Linked DNA regions of Homo sapiens. The protein of the gene in region 1 interacts with the protein of each later gene in a pairwise test. Each region holds a gene or a part of one and is shown in the gene's direction. Other genes may lie near its edges.

Region 1 (7,027 bases):
TGCCCGATGAGCGGCGCTTCCTCCAATCCAAGACCAAACGCAAAACCTCCAACCCGCAGTTTGACGAGCACTTCATCTTTCAGGTACAGCCTCTGGAGCAGGCAGGGTCTGGTGCCCTCCGCGTTGCTGGGAAGGTGCAGACCTACAGGAGAGCCCAGCCTCCTGTACCAGCCAGGGCTCTGCAGCCCCCGGGACCCTTGATGCCACCAGCTCTGCTTTACCTAGTCTGCTAGGTTAAGGCCTATAGGAGCTGATCCCTGATAGAGGGGCAGGGGAGAGATTTGGTGAGTGGTGACCAGAAGCCTGGGCTTCCCTGTCCTGACTACCTGGAAGAGAGTGGGTGAAAACACAATTTTAGAGCAACTACTGAATGCCAGGCCCTGGCCTATGGGGCTCAGGGGAATTATCCCAAAGGCCTGAAGCACTATGGGGTTTCTGGCAAGTTTATCTAAGGAAGGCAAAAGACAGGCCTCAGCGTGAATGCAGAAGCTTCCTGTGCTGTCAGAGGCCAGCGCGGGGCCCGAGTGCCCTCACAGGGTAGGTGTGGTGCCTTGCTGCACTCTGGGCTGGCCGGCTTAGGGTCTGGAGGTGGAGAGTCTATTGGGGCACCGAGCCAGTTTCACAGGGGCCTGGGAGCCTTAGCAGGTGACTGGGGGCCCTTAGGGGAAGGAGTCATCGAGACCTGCCAAGAGGCCTTGGACAAACATGTTCTCAAGAGCTGGGTGGCAAGCTAGCCAAGAGGTGAGGTTCAGCCAGTCAGCTTTCAGGAGGAGTGTGACTGCGGAGGCCAGGGCCATCACTTGTGCCTTCCGCCCTGGCTGAGAGCTGGGAAGAGGGGTGCCATCGGGCCTGGTCCCGGGCCGTCTTTCTGAGGCCAGGGCTGTGAGAATTCACAGGTGAATCGCTCTTCTCAAGACATCAGAATCCAAGGCTGCAGCCTTGCTGACGTGCGACACGTCATGCTTGCAGGCTAATTTTTCTTAGCTCATCACTTCCCCACTCTATCTCGCCCCAGCTTGATCCAATCCCTCTGTGGAAAAGGGAGAAGGGGAAAGAAAAGAAAATCAATATTAATGGGCCATCTGCTGGAGGTCAGACACTGTGATTGGGGTTTTACAACCAGAGAGGAAGACCCATAATCCCCATTTCACAGGCGAGGAGGCCAAATCTCAGGGAGGAGAGAGCTGGCATGCCCAGCTCTGACAGCAGAGACAGGCCGGTGCCCTGGGCTCCTGGGCCTTTGCTACAGTGCAGGGTGGTGGCGGAGCCACACTCACCGTGCAGCCATGTCACTTGGTGCTCCGGTTAAACGGCAGATTCCAATTCATGAATCTGGGCTGGGGCCCAAGATCCTGCATTTCTAACAGGGCTCCAAGTGGTGGTAGACGCTACAGGTCCTCGGACCACACTCTGTGTACCAAGGTCCTGGCACCTACCCCCACTTTCCAGGGGTACACGGCTCTGCTGCTGAGAAGGGTCCCCTGAAAATGCCTAGGTTTGGGGGATGTGGGTCCCTGGTTGAGACACCCGTTCCCAAAAGCACCCATGTCCAGAATAACAAGTCACACCATCCCATCCCCTACCCCCACGCCTGACTCTGGCTGGTGTCCTTGTCCCCCCCAGGTGTCCAGCAAGACCATCACCCAGAGGGTGCTGAAGTTCTCCGTCTACCACGTGGACAGGCAGAGGAAGCACCAGCTCCTGGGCCAGGTGCTCTTCCCCTTGAAGAATGAGACCCTAGTGGGGGACTGCCGGCGTGTCATCTGGAGAGACCTGGAGGCCGAGAGCCTGGAGGTATGGTCAAGGTCACCATGCCTATGCCACTGAGCATCAGCTGGCAGGTGTGCACAGGGCCCAGCACCTGCTGGCGGCATCAGCCCTCAGCATCCTGCACACCACCCTACAACAGTGACTCAGGGAGGAGGGCCCAGGCCCCAAGCAGCATGGGACAGGTGGGAACGGACCTGCCCCTGGGCAGGGAGGGCCTGCTTGAGGTCCTGTTGTCACACTGGCCATCAGACCCCCTGGAGCAACCTGAAATATCCACATTTGGATTCTTATCTAGGTTAGACAGCTGTGAGAGATGACACCACAAATGGTCCAGCCCAGGGAAATGTTTCCTCCAGCCCACCACCCCCAGGAAGGCCCCAGCTGGCTCAGACCTGGGTGTGACTCCTTAGCTCTGGTCCACAGGACTGCACAAGCCCCTTAAACTCTCCAGACCACAGTTGCCCCATCCTTAAAATGGCAGTGGAACTCAAAGGGGACCATGCGGGTGTGTCGCATGGACCGCTAGGAGGAAGCGGGAGGCTCTCTGGGGGTTCTGTGACCCCTTCAGCACTTGCCAGAGTAACAGGGTGGGGTGCTTCCATCTTGGCCTCCCCAGCCCCCCTCGGAGTTTGGCGACCTCCAGTTCTGCCTCAGCTACAACGACTACCTGAGCCGCCTGACGGTGGTTGTGCTGCGTGCCAAGGGCCTCCGGCTCCAGGAGGACAGAGGCATTGTCAGTGAGTTCCTCCCTTTCCTCCTGGGGAAGGTCCCACCCACCGAGCTTACAGCCTGGGGCTACAGTCCAACCTCATCCCTGACCATCCAGTTTCTGCTTGCATACACCTATCATGGAGCGCTCACTACCTCACAAGACGTGCTGTCCCTCGGTCGACAGTTCTGGTGCAGGAAGCCTCTTCCTGTGTTGAACCCAAAGCTGCATCTCCTTGGCCTCCCCTACGGAGGGTTCTAACCCAGCCGCAATACCAGGCCCTGCCCCTCCTGTTTCCCGAGGCAGCGTCTTGGCTCTTTGAACTGTCCTGCCTGCCTCCACCTCCACCTTTCCATCAGCGGCATGGGTCCAGTTCCTCCAGGGTGAGGCCCGCACCTCCCTCCCCACAGGGGAAGAGCCCCCGACTCAATGGGCACTGATGCTTGGCCTCCCAGAATACAGGAGCTGCAGAAGGGGAGGCCTTGGTTCACCCCACATGTCCCACCCCATTTGGGCTCACCCCACACATCCCACCCATCCCAGTGAGGTGGTGGTCAGCCACCTGTTTGTGTTCACATCTGGGGTCACCGTAAGCCAGGCAGGATCCAGACCTTCCACTGTGACTCTGACCCTCACCCACCAAATCTTAGCCCTCTGTACAAGGTGTTTAAGGGGCCCCAGGGGGCCTGGGGGCCCAGTGAGCAGCCCCCCAACAGGGAGGGACAGGCTTGCGGTGCTAGGCTCTGGTAAACCAGGGCCTGCAGGAGCCGTGGGTACTTTCCTGATGCAAAGAGGAAGGAAAAGGAAGGGAGCGGAGCCCCGCCTGGGCCGCAGGGCAGTGCACTCCTCAGCCGGCTTCCTCTGGTCACGCCGGCGGGGCCGCAGCACTGTGTGAGGGGTGGGGCCCTGGCACCTAGCTTGGGCACGTGCCCTCCTAGCCGGACCTCCCACAGGCAGGGGCTCTGCTCCCACCTGCCTCTGCCAGCCCACTAGTGCTCACCGTTCCCTAGGTGTGTTTGTCAAAGTGTCTCTGATGAACCACAACAAGTTTGTCAAGTGCAAGAAGACTTCAGCTGTGCTGGGCTCCATCAACCCTGTGTACAATGAGACCTTCAGCTTCAAGGCCGATGCCACCGAGCTGGATACCGCTAGCCTCAGCCTGACTGTGGTGCAGAACATGGAAGGGGACAGTAAGGCCACACCCTACCCTGGGCTGCTGGGATGGGGACCACGAGGGGCTGCCGAGTGTTCAGGCAGAGTGAGTGCCTCCTGTCCTGACCTCAGAAGGAGCTGTACGAGCTCCCTCCCTGGTTAAGGAAACTAGTGCTCAGAAAGGCTGAAATATTGCCCAAGGCCTGGGTTTCAGGCCCAGCTTTAGTCCAGTTGAGCTCTGTCTGTGGCACCCTAGAAACAGGTTAAGCAGCCGGGCATGCTGGCTCACATCTGTAATCCCAGCACCTTGGGAGGCCAAGGTGGGTGGATCACTTGAGCTCAGGAGTTCAAGACCAGCCTGGCCAACATGGTGAAACGCTCATCTCTACTAAAAATACAATAATTAGCTGGGCGTGGTGGCACACCCCTGTAATCCCAGCTACTTGGGAGGTTGAGGTGGGAGGATCTCTTGAACCCAGGAGGCGAGGCTGCTGAATCTGTCAAAAAAAAAAAAAAAAAAAAAAGGGCCGGGCACGGTGGCTCACACCTGTAATCCCAGCACTTTGGAAGGCCGAGGTAGGCAGATCACGAGGTCAGGAGATCGAGACCGTCCTGGCTAACACAGTGAAACCACGTCTCTACTAAAAATACAAAAAATTAGCTGGGTGTGGTGGCTGGTGCCTGTAGTCCCAGCTACTTGGGAGGCTGAGGCAGGAGAATGGCATGAGCCTGGGAGGCGGAGCTTGCAGTGAGCCGAGATCGCACCACTGCATTCCAGCCTGGGCAACAGAGCGAGACTTCGTCTCAAAAAAAAAAAAAGAGGTTGGCTGGGTGCGGTGGCTCACGCCTATAATCCTAGCACTTTGGGAGACCGAGAGGGGTGGATCACGACGTCAAGAGATCAAGACCATCCTGGCCAACATAGTAAAATTCCGTCTGTACTAAAAATACAAAAGTTAGCTAGGCGTGGTGGTGCACGCCTGTAGGCCCAACTACTCGGGAGGCTGAAGCAGAAGAATCACTTGAACCCGGGAGGCAGAGGTTGCAGTGAGCCAAGATCTTGCAACTGCACTCCAGCCTGTCCACAGAGCGAGACTCTGTCAAAAAAAAAAAAAAGAAAAGAAAAGAAAAAGAAAGAGGTTAAGCAATGGCCTCTGCTGCCCTCTCCTGGAGCAAATCACCCGAGAGAGTGGGAGGGGCCAGGCCTGCCACCAGCCCAGGGACCTGGTGCTCTGACCTTCCTCGTGCCCTCCAGATGAGACTTTGGGGTTCTGGGCGAGTTCTGTCAGCCAGCTCCCACACTGCCCCACACCCCAGCACCCACTGCCACTCTGGGGAAACAGAGCCATCAGGCCGTGGCTGGCCACATGGCCTGGACTTAAGACCCTTCTCCACGGTGGCCAGTGAATGTTACTGCTGAATGTACTCTCGGATGGCCGAGGCCTTCTTTCTAGAGGGGCCCTTTCCTCCCTCAGCTCTTTGGCATAAGGTAGACTTAATACGGCCCCACAGAAGGGTGTGGGGCAGAGCTGGTGGCCCTCAAGGAGAGAGTCTTTCAGGGCTCTCCTTCCTCCCAATCTCCCAGGGGGAGAAGCAGCCCTTCCAGCTGCAGAGCAAAGGCAGGGCCCCTTTGGGGCCTGTCAGCTCCCACTCAGAGAGGAGGGGAGTTGCTACTTCCTCCTGGGGAGGAGGAGGGAGGAAAGGAGGTCACTGGGGACGGGGCTTCTGTGCTCAGGAGCACACCGGTGCTCTCCCTCCCCTGCAGAGAGCCAGCAGCTGGGCCGAGTGGTGGTGGGCCCCTACATGTACACCCGCGGCAGAGAGCTGGAGCACTGGGACGAGATGCTCAGCAAGCCCAAGGAGCTGGTGAAGCGCTGGCATGCGCTCTGCCGCACCACGGAGCCCTGACCCTTCGCCCAGCACCGCGGTTCCGCTTTGGGAGCCGACCATCCTCGCAGTTGCATGTGACAGCCACAGCCACACGCATGGACGTTTCATCCAACAGCTCCCCGAGCTGCCAGCCAGCCCGAGCCAGGAGGACGTGAGTGCTGATATGCAGGAGAGAAGAGGGGACAAAGAAGCCCTGGCCCGGTCAGCGGCTCTGGCCATACAGCCTTCCGACACACTCCCTCCTCCTTATCTGCGGGGCTGCCTGGGCTCGGAATCCCGGCTCCTGGTCCTCACAGCCCTGATTTGGACCAGAATCTCAGATGCTCAGAAGAAAGATCCTGTTTAGTGATGACCCAGCTCTACCTGCTGAATGGACCTGCAGGGTAAACTTGGGTGCCTCCATCTGGGAAAGCTGATGATGTGTTCATGCAGTCGATGACCCTCACTGCTTTTTCAGCCAGGGTTTCTCTGCCTTCTGCCTGGCAGAGAAAACACACTGCTATGGGGAAAATCACAGGGAGGGCGCTGTGACCAGCGCACTCAGGCACCAAGTGTCGGCATGGCTCACTGTGCTGGGTGAAGGCCTCCCCGAGCATTAGGTCCTCCACGGGGCTGTGTCAAATGCCCTCCCACATTGTGTCAAGTCTGCCCATGGCCCACCCTCCCCACAGTCCAAAACCACACAGCCCTGGTTCTCCAGCTGTTCTGCTGCTGTTTCTGTGCTCTCCCTGATTAAGAGCATTCAGTTCCTGGGCTCTCCCTTTGAGCAGGAAATGGTGAAAGCATGTGGCTATGGTATAGCCCACAGGGCTGAGATTGCTGTGTTGCAGTATTGATGTAAAATTTGTTAAGAAGGAAGTACCCACAGATCACTGCCATCAACTCCCCAGAAGTTGCACTCAAGCTAGTGAGCAGCCCTTGTGCTTGTCACAGTTACTGTAACAGGTAGTGTGTATTTGCACCTGGCATCGTGCAGCCTGCACGTCAACACGTTGTTTTGTGTAACTAGAACAGCACATGGAACCACTATCTCTTTCTCTTTTTTCCTTCTTTTTCTTTTTTTTTTTTTTATTTTAATTTTTTGAGACGGAGTTTCCCTCTTGTCACCCAGGCTGGAGTGCAATGGCGTGATCTCGGCTCACTGCACCCTCCACCTCCCAGGTTCAAGCGATTCTCCTGCCTCAGCCTCCCAAGTAGCTGGGATTACTGGCGCCCGCCACCATGCCTGGCTAATTTTTTTTATTTTTAGTAGAGACGGAATTTTACCATGTTGGCTAGGCTGGTCTCAAATTCCTGGCCTCAGGTGATCCACCTGCCTCAGCCTCCCAAAGTGCTGGGATTACAGGCATGAGTCACCGCACCCAGCCCGACCAGTATCTTTTTCTTATGCAGTGAAACAACTTTAGCAAAAGAGGCAATGAATGTTATACTGAGTTTCTACCTCTTTAACTCCACCTCCAATTTCTGTCAATCTACAAACACAAGTGTCGCCTCGCAGTGTTTCGT
Region 2 (6,368 bases), on another chromosome or scaffold:
ACACTGCCTTGCACATTGTGACTGCTTCATAAATATCTAGAATTAACTTTTATTTCTTATTTTACAATACGGAAGTAGTAAATTTTCTCTACCTAATTCTTAAAATGGTTTTTTGTTTGTTTGTATTTTTGAGAGACAGGGTCTTACTCTGTTACCCAGGCTGGAGTGCAGTAGTACCATCGTGGCTCACTGCAGCCTTGACTTCCCTGGCTCAAGTGAGCCTCCCATCTCAGCCTCCTGAGTAGCTGGGACTACAGGTGTGTGCCACCTTGCTTGGCTTTTTTTTTTTTTTTTTTTTTTTTTTCAGCGATGGGGTCTCACTATGTTGCCTGGGCTGATCTTGAACTCCTGAGCTCAAGCAATCCTCCCACCTCGGCCTCCCAAAATGTTGGAATTACAGGTGTGAGCCACCATGCCTGGCCTCTCAAAATATTTTAAGGATCAAATATATTATTAACTAACCAGTTTTTGGAAACTGCTCATCACTTAAAGAAATGTAAAATATTATATGATTAAGGTCTAACAAGTTTCAACAATTAGCAAATTATATCATAGATGATAGTGATTCCAATGAGCAAAGAGGAAAAATTTATAATCCAAATGCTGACCTAAAATATCTGTGCCAAGCCATCTAAACTCAGCTAAATAGCACTGCAGTTTCAGTACTAAAACCACCAGGGAAGTAGGAGGAATAAAATCAAGCATGGTTTTTAGAAATAGCTGCTGAGTCTTCAGTTATTTAAGGAAGCAAAATATTGGGAAACTGTGTAAAGAAAACGTGTCAGACTTCTCCCATCAGCCAGCTAAGGCTTTGGATGTACTTGAAAGAATATTATGCTTACAGACATGAAATAGGTTTGATTCAGGACTTTGCAGTATTCCTATAGTTGATTTATAACATCTCCTGCTAAGCAAAGCCCACTGACTAATTAGTCACCACTACACAAGGAAAAACAGCATTATTTTTAGAGGCTGAATTAATGTTAGTTTTCTCATTTTCTCATCTTCATTCTCTCTGCTGTTGAAGAAATGTTCAGTGGCCAACTGATTCTGCTTCTTCTCTTGCAGGTTTCCTATCCTGGGAGCAGGAGAGTGTGCCTATTTGAATGACAAAGGTGCCAGTAGTGCCAGGCACTACACAGAGAGGAAGTGGATTTGTTCCAAATCAGATATACATGTCTAGATGTTACAGCAAAGCCCCAACTAATCTTTAGAAGCATATTGGAACTGATAACTCCATTTTAAAATGAGCAAAGAATTTATTTCTTATACCAACAGGTATATGAAAATATGCTCAATATCACTAATAACTGGGAAAATACAAATCAAAATCATAGTAAAATATTACCTGTTTTCATGGTGCTAATATTACCTGTTCTCCCACTGCTAATGACATACCCGAGACTGAGTAATTTATAAATAAAAGAGATTTAATTGACTCATAGTTCCACATGGCTGGGGAGGTCTTGCAATCATGACAGAAGGCAAATGGGAAGCAAAGTCATGTCTTATGTGGTGGCAGGCAGGGGGACTTGTGCACAGGAACTCCTATTTATACAACCATCAGATATCTTGAGACAAGAACAGTATGGGGCTCCCTGGTGTGATTCCGTCCTGCGCGGCTGTTCTCTGGAGCAGCATTCATTTATCTTCGTCTGCCTTGTCTCCTACCTAAGTGTGTGTCGCCACCCGATGGAAGATTCGATGGACATGGACATGAGCCCCCTGAGGCCCCAGAACTATCTTTTCAGTTGTGAACTAAAGGCCGACAAAGATGATCACTTTAAGGTGGATAATGATGAAAATGAGACCAGTTATCTTTAAGAACGGTCAGCTCAGGGGCTGGTGCAAAGGATGAACTGCACATTGTTGAAGCAGAGGCCATGAATGACGAAGGCAGTCCAATTAAAGTAACACTGGCAACTTTGAAAATGTCTGTACAGCCAACGGTTTCTCTTGGGGGCTTTGAAATAACACCACCAGTGGACTTAAGGTTGAAGTGTGGTTCAGGGCCAGTGCATATTAGTGGACAGCACTTAGTAGCTGTGAAGGAAGGTGCAGAGTCAGAAGATGAAGAAGAGGAGGATGTGAAACTCTTAAGTATATCTGGAAAGCAGTCTGCCCCTGGAGGTGGGCAGAAAAAAGTAAAACTTGCTGCTGCTGCTGATGATGATGATGATGAAGATGATGATGATGATGATGACGAGGAAGCTGAAGAAAAAGCGCCAGTGAAGAAATCTATACGAGATACTCCAGCCAAAAATGCACAAAAGTCAAATCAGAATGGAAAAGACTCAAAACCATCATCAACACCAAGATCAAAAGGACAAGAATCCTTCAAAAAACAGGAAAAATCTCCTAAAACACCAAAAGGATCTAGTTCTGTAGAAGACATTAAAGCAAAAATGCAAGCAAGTATAGAAAAACGTGGTTCTCTTCCCAAAGTGGAAACCAAGTTCATCAATTATGTGAAGAATTTCTTCTGGATGACTGACCAAGAGGCTATTCAAGATCTCTGGCAGTGGAGGAAGTCTCTTTAAGAAAATAGTTTAAACAATTTGTTAAAAATTTTCCATCTTATTTCATTTCTGTAACAGTTGATATCTGGCTGTCCTTTTTATAGTGCAGAGTGAGAACTTTCCCTACCATGTTTGATAAATGTTGTCCAGGTTCTATTGCCAAGAATGTGTTGTCCAAAATGCCTGTTTAGTTTTTAAAGATGGAACTCCACCCTTTGCTTGGTTTTAAGTATGTATGGGATGCTATGATAGGACATAGTAGTAGCAGTGGTCAGACATGGAAATGGTGGGGAGACAAAAGTATACACGTGAAATAAAACTCAGTATTTTAATAAAGTAAAAAAAAAAAAAAAGGTATGGGGAAAACTGCCCCCATAAAGCAATTGTCTCCACCTGGCCCTGCCCTTTGCATGTGGAGATTATTACAATTCAAGGTGAAATTTGGGTGGAGACACAACCAAACCATATCAGATGGCTATATCAAAAAGACAAGAAATAACAAGCATTGGTGAGAGTGTGGAGAAGACGGAACCCTTGTACACAGTTGGTGGGAACACAGTTTGGTGCAGCCATTATAGAAAACGTCATGGAGGTTCCTAAAGAAATTAAAAAGAGAACTACCATATGAGCCAGCAATCCCTTTTCCAGATATACACCCAAAGGAAATGAAATCACCACCTCATAAAGATATCTGCTTTCCTGTTTATTATAACACATCTTTATTCATAATAGCCAAGATACGGAACTAACTGAAGTGACCATTAACAGATGAATGGATAAAGAAATTGTCATATATATAAAACACACACATTATATACATACATACATATATATATATATATAAAAAATAGAATATTATTCAGCCTTGTAAAAAGAAATCCTGTTATGTTGGGAACAAGCCCCCCAAAATCTGGCCATAAACTCACCCCAAAACTGGCCATAAACAAAATCTCTGCAGCACTGTGACATGTTAGTGATGGCCATAACACCCACGCTGGAAGGTTGTGGGTTTATGGGAATGAGGGCAAGGAACACCTGGCCTGCCCAGGGTGGAAAACCACTTAAAGGCGTTCTTAAGCTACAAACAATAGCATGAGCGATCTGTGCCTTAAGGACATGTTCCTGCTGCAGTTAACTAGCCCAATCTATTCCTTTAATTCGGCCCATCCCTTCATTTCCCATAAGGGATACTTTTAGTTAATTTAATATCTATAGAAACAATGCTAATGACTGGCTTGCTGTTAATAAATACATGGGTAAATCTCTGTTCTGGGCTCTCAGCTCTGAAGGCTGTGAGACCCCTGATTTCCCACTTCACACCTCTATATTTCTGTGTGTGTGTCTTTAGTTCCTCTGGCGCTGCTGGGTTAGGATCTACCCGACTGAGCTGGTCTCAGCACTGTTATTTGAAACAATGTAAATAAACCTATAGGGTTTATTATATATACTAAGTGAAATAAGCCAGACACAGAAAAAAAATGTTGCATGATCTCACTTATAGTGAAACTTAAAAAAAAAACCCAAATACATAGAAATAGAGTAGAATGGTGGTTACCAGAGATGAGGAAAATACAGAGACACAGGTCAAAAGATACAGAGTTGCAGTTACAAAGGGTGAGTATGTCTAGATATCTAACATACAGTATGAGGACTATAATAGTATTGCACTGTGTACTGAAAACTTGATGACAGATTTTAGATATTCTTACCACACAGACAAAAAGAAATGTAAGTATGTGAGATGAAGCTTATGTTAATTAGATTAAGTGTATGTACATAAAAACATCACATTATACACATCAAATATATACAATAAAAAAGCACATTGGGAGATACATGATAAATTTCTATCTGCAGTTGCTATTTGCATTTTTAAAGGATATTTTTATTTTTTAAATTTTTAGCTGACAACTGTATAATTATGGAATACAATGTGATGTTCTGATATATGTGTACACTATGGAATGATTAAATCAAACTAACATTTCATCATCTCACATACTTATCATTTTCTGTGGTGAGAACATTTGAAATTTATTCTCTTGACAATTTTGAAAGATCCAATACACTATTATTAACTATAGTCACTATGCTGTGCAATAGATCTCAAAAGCTTATTCCTCTTAACTGAAACCTACTACCCTGTGACATGTGGGGAACATCTCTCTATTCCCCAGCCCCAGTCCCTAAATGTTGAATACACAATGGGGAAAAAATAGTCTTCAATGAATGGTGGTGGGAAAATTGTATATCCACATGCAGAAGAATAAAATTGGACCCTTACCTCCTACCATATATAAAAACCAACTGAAAATCGATTAAAGACTTAAACTGTAAAACTACTAAAAGAAAATATAGGGAGAAAGCTTCACAACGTTGGTCTGGGCAATAATTTTTGGATTTGACCTCAAAAGTAGATGCAACCACAGTGAAAATAAACAAATGAAATTGCATAAAATAAAAAATGTTTCTGCACAGCAAAGGAAATAATTAATGGAGTAAAGAGACAACTTACAGATTGGGAGAATATATTTCCAAACTATTGTTGGGGCTCAGAAACGGATACCCTAACATATAGTGATTTGACAGGTGGAACTAAAGAAGACTCGAGGTCTCTCTGACCTCCTCCTCAACCTCTGTTTCTTAATCCTCTGTTTTCCCAGAGCACAGGAGGAAGTTCTCTGAAGTTCCTTTATCTGCTTTAAGTTCAGACTCACCAAATAAGAAAACAGTTAATTCTGGTGCCTTCCATGGGTTTTCATTAACTGAAGTCATATTGTAGGAAAAAGAATGAAGTCTCTTAACCCACCTGGATAGATTTTTCTCACAAACCATTGTCTTCTCTGCAAGCCCAGTAGACTTTGTCCCAGGCCATTTATGTGATCTTCACCCCATTAAGTTCTCCCCAAATTATTTACTCTTCCCCCAAAATCACCCACACTTCCCCATCTCCCTCTCCCCTAAGGACAAGGGTATATCACCATCTATACCCCATTGCTTGGTGGGGTGATCACTCTGATTCTCTGCATGCATTTTTATAGATTTGTTTGCCATTTATCCTATTAATCTGCATTCTGTCAATTGTGGCAAGTTATCAGCATATTTTTTAACTTTTAATTATTCTTAATGGAAAGACACTTCTGTATACACTGGAAATCTCAGGAAATTTCTTTTTTCCTTAAGCTTAATTGAAATGTTTACTTTTCAGTAAAATTTCAAGCTTGAGTAATGTTCATGCCTGCTTTTCATTGAAATAGAATGAAAAGGTTGCACAATATTATTTTCATGAAATTACTTCTAGTATAATTCTGAATAAACACTTTGAAAGGCAGTGAACTGTAAATATATTACAGCTATCTCTTATTCTTCAGGGTGGGTCTCAATTATGTAAAAGATGATTGGCTTTCTGTTTTAAGTAATAGTCATTTTGAAAACACTTTAAAACTGTCAAGTGAAGTGTGATGGCTAATTTTATATGTCAACTTGACTGAGATAAGGTATACTCAGCAGGGAAAGCATTATCTCTGGATGTGTCTATGAGGGCTTTTCTGAAAGAGATTGATGTTGGAATCACTAAGCTGTGTAAAGATGATCTACCTTCACCAATGTTGGCAGGCATCATCCAATCCGTGCAGGTCTTACCCAAACAGAGCAAAAAGTCAGGTAGGGTAAATTTATTCTCTTCTAAAGCTAGGGCATCCATTTCTTTCTACTCTCAGACATTGGAGTTCCCCAGTTTCCCAGACCTTTGGCCTTACACTGAGAATTATGCTTTGTTTTATTTAGGCATATTTTAATAATACTTCATGTATTGGTCAGGAAGACATTTCCTGGTTCTAAGGCTTTCGA

What was found.
Region 2: the proteins of SYT15 (region 1) and CLEC2D interact in binary tests that used the Homo sapiens proteins (3 or more experiments, as listed by UniProt).

What each region holds. Positions count from the first base shown.
Region 1 is NC_000010.11:46,582,109-46,589,135, forward strand, and holds part of SYT15 (synaptotagmin-15), read left to right. Parts: coding exon 1-83; exon of another isoform or gene 84-1,030; intron 1,031-1,623; coding exon 1,624-1,794; intron 1,795-2,386; coding exon 2,387-2,507; intron 2,508-3,489; coding exon 3,490-3,669; intron 3,670-5,396; coding exon 5,397-5,539; 3' UTR 5,540-7,027. UniProt on the Homo sapiens protein: May be involved in the trafficking and exocytosis of secretory vesicles in non-neuronal tissues.
Region 2 is NC_000012.12:9,693,692-9,700,059, forward strand, and holds the end of CLEC2D (C-type lectin domain family 2 member D), read left to right. Parts: intron 1-1,068; coding exon 1,069-1,183; 3' UTR 1,184-5,862; downstream 5,863-6,368. UniProt on the Homo sapiens protein: Receptor for KLRB1 that protects target cells against natural killer cell-mediated lysis. Inhibits osteoclast formation. Inhibits bone resorption. Modulates the release of interferon-gamma. Binds high molecular weight sulfated glycosaminoglycans.